2 linked regions of the Homo sapiens genome follow. The protein of the gene in region 2 purifies or fractionates together with the protein of the main gene of each other region. This does not show direct contact. Each region holds a gene or a part of one and is shown on either strand. Other genes may lie near its edges. The genes, in order: RPA3 and FBH1.

Region 1 (2,896 bases), on a different chromosome or scaffold from region 2:
TCATTCCTTATGAAAGACCATAAAATCACATAAGAAAAATTTACGTTGCTTTTTTCTTCCTCAAGAGGTTTTTTGTTTCGTTTTTGTTTTTTTGTTTTGAGACAGGGTCTCACTCTGTTACCCCGGGTGGAATGCAGTGGCACCATCATGGCGCACTGCAGCCTTAGCCTCCCAAGATCAAGTTGCTCCCATGTCAGCCTCCCCAGTAGCTGGGACTACAGGCATGCTTAACCATGCCTGGCTAATTTTTGTTTTGTTTTGTTTTGTTTTGTTTTGTTTTGTTTTTTGTAAAGATGGCATCTCCCTATGTTCCTCAGGCTGGTCTTGAACTCTCGGTCTCAAGCAATCCTCCTGCCTCGACCAGCCCCTCAAGAGTTTTCGATTTTATTTTATTTTCTATTTTTGTTCATATATTTCCAGTTTTTACTTATTTATGTTTGCATTTTATGTTTAACATACTTAAAACTTTTTTTGGTATTTTGTGAAGACAAATCCATATGCTGTTTGGTTAATGTATACAGAACACATTGTGAAATACAGATTATAGAAGATTCCTCTCATAGGATATTACTGCTTATAGAAATGCTGGACGTTTTCAATAGTGATTTTGTCTTTAACTTGAATTGTAGCTTTGGACTTGAAGCTACTGCTAAAGGTAGCAGGAATTTTAACATGCTGACAGTTAAGTACTCAAACATTTGTTAACAAGTTACATTTTAACTTTTACACTGGTAATTCTTAAAATTACTTTGTTACTTGAAGTGATAGATTAGTAACCTGTATAACAGTTTTCCAAAATAATTGTCAACTGAAAATGTGATATCACCAAATCGATGTCTTGTTCTGTGTCTTAGCTTGATGAAGAAATCTCTGGAATTGTGGAAGTGGTTGGAAGAGTAACCGCCAAGGCCACCATCTTGTGTACATCTTATGTCCAGTTTAAAGAAGATAGCCATCCTTTTGGTAAATAAAGCATTCTAGTATTGACTGGTTTTATGTAATTACATAACATACAGTTTTATATAACTGTATGTAATTACATAACATACAGTTTTATATAACTGTATGTAATTACATAACATACAGTTTTATATAACTGTATGTAATTACATAACATACAGTTTTATATAACTGTATGTAATTACATAACATACAGTTTTATATAACTATGTTTTAACATACATTTTGTATTACATACAAAATTGTATGTATTACATACAATTACATAACATAAACATACAGGAAAACAGTTTTATTTTTAGTTTGATATATATTGGTCTAGAGTTTTAGTACTGCCACATTTTCAATTTCTATAGAATTTTGTGATCGTAAAGGCAAATGGGGGTACATTTTGTTTTGGCCTGCTTTTAAGTAGTGCTTATATATGTAAGAAACTCAGTAAAGATTAATTAATGTTTGTTGAAAGATAATTTTTTTAAATATAACAAAAATAGTATTAGTTTTTTTGTTGTAATATCTGAATTGAAGGAATTGAATAATGCATAACACCCAAAACACTACCAGGCAGAAACTGCCTGTATAATGAACATCAAAATGGATGGTACTCCCATGTCTTTTTTTTGGTGCCACAGTTAAATACAAGAATCCATAATCCATATCTCCATTTTTAGAAACTCACTTCCAAAAGGGTGAGAAAAAGGAAATAGGTAAAAATATCTTAGATAATAATTGATGTTACAACTTTCCATTGTAGATTAAATGTTTGCTTAAATGTTTCTTTCAGATCTTGGACTTTACAATGAAGCTGTGAAAATTATCCATGACTTCCCTCAGTTTTATCCTTTAGGGATTGTGCAACATGATTGATCTTGATGGATTTTCATACGATTGTAAATGAGCTATATTAAAGTCTATTAAAGGAAGCCCTTCTTGTTTGAGGGAGAGATTTCTGTGCTTTCTCATATTTAATTTGCTGTTTTTAAGATATTCCAACCTAGAGTTTTTGATGGAACTGATATATTGACAGTTCTCACCGAAGTCCTTTTATAAAGAATTGCTACTCCAATATATGGTCAGATTAGATGCAAGAATAAAGCAGTTGTCCGAGTCTAAGTTTCTATTTTATTAATAAAAACTAAAATGGTACGTACTATCGGTCATTTCATTTTCATTCTTTTAATCATGTATTCAAGCACAAACTTGAAATTTCATAGCCATAAGGTCAAGATTTAGACCTACCAAATAAAACCTTGGGCCAGCTGTGTTAAGGATTTGCTCACCTTTTCCCAAACTATACCTTGATAATTATTTCCTTGATACCCTACTTACAAAATGAAGTAGATGACATTAAAAAGGCAAACAGAGACTGGCCACGCTGGCTTACTCCTGTAATCCCAGCACCTTGTGAGGCCGAGGCGGGTGGATCACCTAAGGTCAGGAGTTCGAGACCAGCCTCACCAATATGATGAAACCCTGTCTCTACTAAAAATACAAAAATTAGCCGGGCGTGGTGACATGCGCCTGTAATATCAGCTACTCAGGAGGCTGAGACAGGAGAATCACTTGAACCTGGGAGGCGGAGGTTGCGGTGAGCCAAGATTGCACCATTGCACTCCAGCCTAGGCAACAAGAGTGAAGCTCTGTCTCAAAAAAAGGCAAACAGAATCTTACATCTTCTGTAATCTGTGAAGTATCTCTTTTTCTGGCTTGGTTTGGTTTTGTTTTTGTAGAGACAGGATCTCACTCTATTGCCCAGGCTGGAATACGGTTGTGCAATCATAGCTCACTGCAGCCTTGAACCTCTGGGCTCAGTCTCCCAAGTAGCTCAGACTACAGGTGGGCACTACCACGCCCAGCTAGATTTTCCTAAATTTCCGTGTAGAGATGGGGTCTCACTGTGTTTCCCAGGCTGGACTCAAACACCTAGCCTCAAGCA
Region 2 (7,306 bases):
ACCCTCAGCTGGCCACTTGGTTGCTCTATGGCTTCAGGGCACCTCAGGTCTCTAAGTCTGATAGGTCTACGGCCATACCACCCTGAACGCGCCCAATCTCATCTAAGTCTGATAAGTGTCATCAGGAACAGATGAGAAAATATGCTCAAAACTGTCTGTCAAATTATCCAACTGCATGCATACAAACTTACCTGTTTCCTCTATTTAACAAGGCTTATGTGAGTAGCCTGCCTAAGACATTGAAATATCCTTCAAATTATAAAGATGCCACCTAATGGCAAAGCAGGAAGTGTATTAGCAGCCCAAATACAGCCAATTCTGTATTACTGGAAATACCTTCTAAACTAACCAGTAACATGTCTCGCTTATTATGAACAGAAAAGCAAACACCCCCTCCACTTTGATGGTTTTGTGCTGGTTTGTGCTGGTTCTGTAATGTTGCTGACCAGTTTATTTAGAGGAAAACAACAGCAAATCATCTTATTCACACAGAAACAAAATATGAATGTGAAGTTTCTCTACATTAAAAACTAAATTTGAAGTTTTCTACATTGGAAAGAAAACAAAGTCTTGTTGTTCTCTTTTTAAAAAATAAGATGAAATTTTATTTCCTGTGTTCAAAACCCTTCATATTACAAATATAACGCAAGGACTATTTTGCCTGAATGGGGACCTCTGGGCATATCTGCAAAAGAGACAGGTAGAGCGGCAACATGGCTTCCAGAACACCCGAAAATCCTGGGTGAGGTGCCCCACACAATGCTCAACAGCAGGAGCAGCTGCAGGACTCCGGGCAGCAAATCCACAGGCCCTATAGATCCAACAGAGTGGACTCATGCCTGCTTTTCTCTCTCCTCAAACAGTCCCAATTGCTTCAGAGCTGGTCAGTACAGTATCTACAATTAGAACTGGAGACACTATGTGTCCTGATGAAGGGTAAGGAAAAAAGGAAAAAAATAAAATAAATAACTGGAGACACTCACTAAAGAAAGTTACCAAGAGTGAATATCTCACTTAAATAGGAGGTGAACATCTACTGCCACAATGGCCTGGAGAAGAAAAGCTTTCATGGATAAAATCATGAAGGAAAAAAACAAAACAAAACAAAACAAACAAAACAAAAAATCACAAAGGAGCAAGATCAACATCAAACCACTCATATCTGAGACCCAGGACCTCAGGCCAGCTGCAGGCCTGCTTAGCTGAATGGTGTGTCAGGTACCGAAGGCTTCTGAAAGTCAACGAAAAGGCACATAACCAGTGAGAAAATCAGGCTCAGTTGAAGGGTCTGATGCCCACCCAAATCTATGATGGCCTTCTACATTTGGCTTTTGGAAACAGCTACAAACAGAGGCTGGCAGATTTGTATAGAAGAGGTACCTACACATGCAGGGTGAACCCTGGAACGTTTTTTGTGAAGTATGTAAGAATGGCTTTATCGAAGCCTTCTGCAGCCACCTCACTGTAACAACGGTGCATTGATAATGACCATCAATGAGATGGAGATGTCTCATCACATGCCTGAGAGTCGAAAAGACAGTAAGCATGCCCCAAGGTAAGCAGCTAGCCCACCTGGTTCACTGCTGTAACTCTGTATGTAGATAGCGTGGGGCCAGACATATAGTCTGTGCCATGTACTCAACGTTCATGTCCCTGAAATTCACACACTGAAATCCTCACCCGCAAGGTGACGGTATGAAGTGGTGGGGCTCTGGGCCAGGCACAGTGGCTCATGCCTGTAATCCCAGCACTTTGAGAGGCCAAGGTGGGTGGATCACTTGAGGTCTAGAGTTCAAGACCAGCCTGGCAACATAGTGAAACCCCATCTCTACTAAAAATATAAAAATTAGCCAGGTGTGGTGGCGGGCACCTGTAACCCCAGCTACTCAGGAGGCTGAGGCCCAAGAATCACTTGAACCCGGGAGGTGGAGGTTGCTGTGAGCCAAGATTGTGCCACTGCACTCCAGCCTGGACAATGGAGAGAGATTGTGTCTCAAAAGAAAAAAAAAAAATGCGGTTCTAGGAAGTGATAAGGTCACAAGGGTGGAGTCCCCACAAATGGGATTAGTGCCCTTATAAGAGAGGTCTCAGAGAGCTCCCTTACTCCTGCCACCATGTGAGGACACAAAGAGAAGGTGCCGTCTATGAACCAGGAAGCGGCCCTCACCAGACACCAAATCTGCTGGCACCTCGATCTTAGACTTCCAGCCTCCAGATCTGTGAGTGAGAGAGACTTCTGCTTATAAGCGGCCCAGTTATGGTATTTTGTTATACCAGCCCAAATGGACTGAGGCAGCACACGTTCTGTGAATACTGAGTGGGTCAAGAAGGATGAGGAGCAGGGAGAAGAATTCGGCTGGGAGGTCCAGGAGCCTACACTCTAATCCCTAGGAATATACTACAGAACTGCTCCCACAGGGAGACCTCCCTGGTAGCTCACAACAGACTGATGACAGAACATCAAAAATGTTCAGTCCCAAAGGGAACTGCTTTGGAAAAGGTAATATGAACAGGATAGATTTTTATTTATGTATTTATCTCAGAAAATACGTCTGAATCCAAAATGCTTGTTGCGAAGATTAAGTGTTTGCAGAAATCTAACAAAGACACAGGAGTAACAGAAAGTGCTAATGGGAGTGTTGGAACACTGTGTTCTGCTTCAAGGGAGTCCCGGTATATTCCAATATGTTCTGGCATGAAGCCACCCTGGGAGGAACTGAGGTTCGGTACCGGGGGAGGGGCGCTTAGACTGGTGATCTGGCCTCTGTGCACTAAGATAAGTAACCTATATAACTGGAATGGCGTTACCAGCCATAGTTTGGCTGGCGGGAGAGCTGGTACTTTTATTGGATTTTTATTAACACTTTTATTGGATTCCCCACCCCTTGGACTTATTGGATATATGTATCAAAAATAACTTTTCTAACGTCAGCTGGAGGTCAGGAAAACTAACCTGTATCTCTGGTCTCAGAGAGAGGTGCTGTGATGCTCTGAACTGGGAGCCAGGAGCCCTGTGTCCACCTCCTCCGCAGGAGCCCTGTGTCCACCTCCTCTGCAATTACACGCTTTACACTTAATGTTCCCTTAAAGCCCCTCCGAGGCTGTGGGGTGCAGGAGAAGACCCACACTTGGCAGGTATATTCATCGCCAAAGCCTTGCTTATGAAAACGAGGATTATAATAACCTGCCATGCTGAATTCAGAGAATGAGACAATATATATGTAAGTACTCAAGCCACCCACATTGAGGGTGACAACACCTATCTCTAAATCTATGTCAACACCTAGCAACAGAAACGTCAGAAGAAATATGTGACTACCACACCAATCTGAGGGTCTCCTAAGGCACATCAGTTTTAATAGCATTAATGTTCTTGCTAAATGGTTAAAAATAAAACCAAAACACTACACTAGAATTCTAATCACCCTTCTATTCTTATTAATATACCTTTTTAAAAAGCAGTTCAAAAATAACTTTATCAAAATAAGAATGCTCAAATGCTACTTCTTCCATAAAAATCCTCCTTCCCTGAGTCACGCAAAGCTCATGGTATGCCTCCCTCTCTACACAGCAAGTGCACTTTACACCTCCTGTAAAGGGCATTTACTGTTAGAAGCTGCTTGTGATTCTTTAGGGAATGAAATTATCTGTGGTGAATGACCACAGATAAAGGGAAGCTGTGTCTAAACTAGGGGTTCTTGTGGGTGCAGAGAGATTAGAATCACTTACGGGGCTTTGCAAACTCTACAAGGCCCCCAGAGTTGTTGAAATTGGTCTCCTACACACCAAATTCGGCATCTGTGCTCCCACCCTTGGACACTCTCTTCCACAATAACCAACAGAAATGTGTTAGAGCCCTCAGGTGTCAGGGTAGAAAAACCAGAATGTACACAAACCATTTTGTCAAATGAATATTCCCTAGGCTTAAGTAAGCTCATTCCCACACTGCCTTTTCTGTGACGGCTTTCTAACAGTGTGACTTCTCTGTCCTCCACCCCAGGGGTCCCCATTCCAGGACCCACCTCTCTTTGCTAACCCTCAGCTTTTAGCCCTACCCCAGCAATTCCTGGCCTTTGCTGACTTTGAAGTGGTCAGATCTGGAGTTTAGCCCTCCACCACCCCTCAAATCTCTTCACCTTGATGACAGTCTATCCCCTCCCAGCCCACTCTGACCCACTCCATGCCCTGGTGAGGTCCCCCGATGGAGATGAGACCCTTATCAGTCTCCCCTGAACGAGTCCTTACAAGAACTCTGCTACGGGGAACTAAAAGGAAGGGACCACGTCTATCCCCTCATTCCTCAAAGTGCACAAGGGGGAAACAAGAGACACTCCTGCAGTCGCAGAGTGAGAACTGCGTGTCTGCCACTCCTCCCCTATGCTTTCATTTGCCTGGCTTCTTTTTTTAATCTTCTTTATTGAAAACAACTTACAAAACAAGTCACAGAAAGTGAAACTGAGTGTTTCAGGTTTTGCTGCAAAGAATGTTGTTGCTCTTCTCCCTGAGCACACAGCTGGGCTATACTTCCCAGTCCTGCGTGCAGGTGGATGTCGCCTTACCGCTGGGTGCCAGCCAATGCAATGGGAACAGCAGCAGCACACGCCTCTTCCAGACCTGCCCTCCACTCTTCTCCTCTTCCCCTTAACTGGGAAGCTGATTCCCAGGACATCCTTAGAAGCCGGGTGTTCAAAATAGAAGAGCCTCCAGCAGCCTCAATCCTCGGACTACTGCTTTAAAAAGAACCCTCCCTCCCCACACCTACACACACAAACTCCAACCACCACCATGACCTGTAGCCTCCTTAGATTGTTATGGGATTGAAAAATAAACGTCTATTGTGAGGCCATTACATGTCTGGATCTATTTGTCACTGCAGCAAAGCTTACCCTAACCATTCAGGATCATTTGAAATGGATACCAAATAATTTCCTTTCTTCCTCTACCTTTACTAATCAGAATTCATACCAAAAAGTCCTTTAAAACTTTTAGGTTACAGACCTAAATGGACAAGATGAAGACAATAAGTACCTAGAATTCCTGGAAGTAAATATTATTATTAAATAATTGCTTTTTCAAAAAAAAATCAAGTTGACTCGCTAGTACAAGGTACCTGACTGGAGAAACTGCTACAATACCATACCCAACTTTAACAAAGATCCACAGAGGGCAGTTTTGCTAATCTGGACAATTTTGGAGTCAGCTAACCGCCCTGGTCAGTTTCCCACATGCCTCTTACTTTCAGCGTGCTCTGTGAAGACCAGCAAGTGGGCACTCGTCCTCTGGCATCTCCTGTGGAGATGGCCCAGGGGCCCTGCGCAATGTAGCCCATTATCACATGACTCAGGCACTTGACAGGTCCAATGGCAGCCTGTGAAACGGGAATGGCCCAATTTCAACAGTTAACTGTGTTATCTCTCAACTCCAGCACCATAAAAGTATTCACTCAAGCCAGGAAGCACTTCGCAGGAATAAAACCGCCCTGTACACCCGAGATACTTGTAACAATTCTTTGTGTAAGTGTGCATTTAACATGTGTCTTATATGAATTATTGTTTTTAATTGCACTGTATTACATATTATATTAATAACAATTATTTGTATAAGTCTGTATTTAATACGTCTTCCATCCCAGACTAAAAGCTCTCTGCTCTAGTGGGAAGGAGTAGAGAGGTACTCACACCCAGCATGTAACACACATTGCTTCATAAACAATTCCTGATTAAACGAACAAATGTGCAGCTGCAGCACTTCTTCTGAAGTGTGGGCTGTCTTCCTTGGCTTTGAAGCTCTCAACTCTCCCAGAGCTCCTAAGTGCTTTACAGCTTTTGCAGTTCTTTCCTATATTCTCGTCTGACCCTCAAAGCAATCCTACAATTGTGCCATGATTAAGCTGGGGCTCAGAGAGGACTTGCCTGAAGTCACCTCGTAGCTCATGAGTGATGGTGCCAACACAAGAACCCGGGTCTCCTGACTCCCCTAGTCCAGTGCACTTCCTACTGTGACATTCTTCACTCTGTATCTAGACACCTTGAAAGCAGCTTCTGAAAACCTCAAGTTTAATTTCCATATTACATTTTTTTAAAATCATTGTGAAATGTCAGAACCAAAGAAATTGAGAAGTATTTGGAAAACATAACTATAAGGAAAATACCACTAAATGCTGTAGACCCGAAATGGAAAAACTTCAAAATATTGTGTCCCCATTAGCTCTAAAAGAAACGAATGCAGAAAGCAAGCAAAATAGAGCTCCAGCTCCTTTCCCAGGTATTCACTGACGCAGAGCCAGGCTACCACAGCCTGCTTCTCCAGAAATCCAAAAGTTCCCAGGCAGTAAGCTCAATCTCCCCGGGATCCTCTCACATCTGAGACACCTGTGACTCCCTTGGAGACAGCACTCGTGTATGACAGCCAACAAGGATGGGCTGGGCTTTCCGTTCTATGTTTTTCCTAAAGAAAGAAAGGAATGTTTGAAAAACAAGAGAAAGATCACTACTTATGGTCTAGAATATAATTTTATATATTTGAAAGGCTTTTTCTACAGTCAATTCATTCCACAACTACTTTTACGTATCTGCTATGTCCCAGATTCATTTTAAACTCCATGAGAGCTTTGTCTTATGGTATCCTTGGTGTTAAATGCTATTTTAGACATTAGTGATACAAAAGTGAATAAGCCTACCCATAAGGCAGCTACCAAAACAAACACAAGTTACTAAAGATAAAGTAATATAACAACTACATAAATGCATGCATGAAGTGTTATGATAGTAAAGAAACATAAATAGAGTTAGGCAAGTTGAAAAAGGCTTCACGAAGAGTTGAGTCTTGAAAGAATCATGGGATTCAGTAAGGCGGAAGGAAACAATGTGTGCAAAAATACAGAGGCATTAACAATGCACTAGAGTGGCAGGAAAGCTGGGCTTCATCAAAACAAGAGGTTCCCTGATGAGGAATGACAGGAGATAAGGCTGGAAAAGGAATTTGGAGCCACAGACTACAAAGGTCCTTACACATAATGATAAAGAAATTGGGCTTCAAAAAAAGAAATTGGACTTTATCAGGTAGGGGCTTCAAGGTATCATCCAATTTTGTTTGTTTGTTTGTTTTTTGTTTTCAGACAGAGTCTCACTCTGTCTGTGGTCCAGGCTGGGGTACAATGGCACAGTCTCGGCTCATTGCAACCTCCGCCTCCCAGGTTCAAGTGATTCTCCTGCCTCAGTCTTCCGAGTAGCTGGGACTACAGGTGCACACCGCCACAGCCAGCTAATTTTTTGTATTTTAGTAGAGATAGGATTTCACCGTGTTG

What was found.
Region 1: the proteins of FBH1 (region 2) and RPA3 purify together in Homo sapiens (affinity purification with mass spectrometry; 2 studies listed by BioGRID, with this or other methods). This does not show direct contact.

What each region holds. Positions count from the first base shown.
Region 1 is NC_000007.14:7,635,931-7,638,826, reverse strand, and holds the end of RPA3 (replication protein A 14 kDa subunit), read left to right. Parts: intron 1-854; coding exon 855-963; intron 964-1,744; coding exon 1,745-1,827; 3' UTR 1,828-2,309; downstream 2,310-2,896. UniProt on the Homo sapiens protein: As part of the heterotrimeric replication protein A complex (RPA/RP-A), binds and stabilizes single-stranded DNA intermediates that form during DNA replication or upon DNA stress.
Region 2 is NC_000010.11:5,893,118-5,900,423, reverse strand, and holds part of FBH1 (F-box DNA helicase 1), read right to left. Parts: intron 6,448-7,306; exon of another isoform or gene 5,935-6,447; coding exon of another isoform or gene 5,913-5,934; exon of another isoform or gene 5,369-5,912; coding exon of another isoform or gene 5,237-5,368; exon of another isoform or gene 3,366-5,236; coding exon of another isoform or gene 2,954-3,365; intron 1-2,953. UniProt on the Homo sapiens protein: 3'-5' DNA helicase and substrate-recognition component of the SCF(FBH1) E3 ubiquitin ligase complex that plays a key role in response to stalled/damaged replication forks.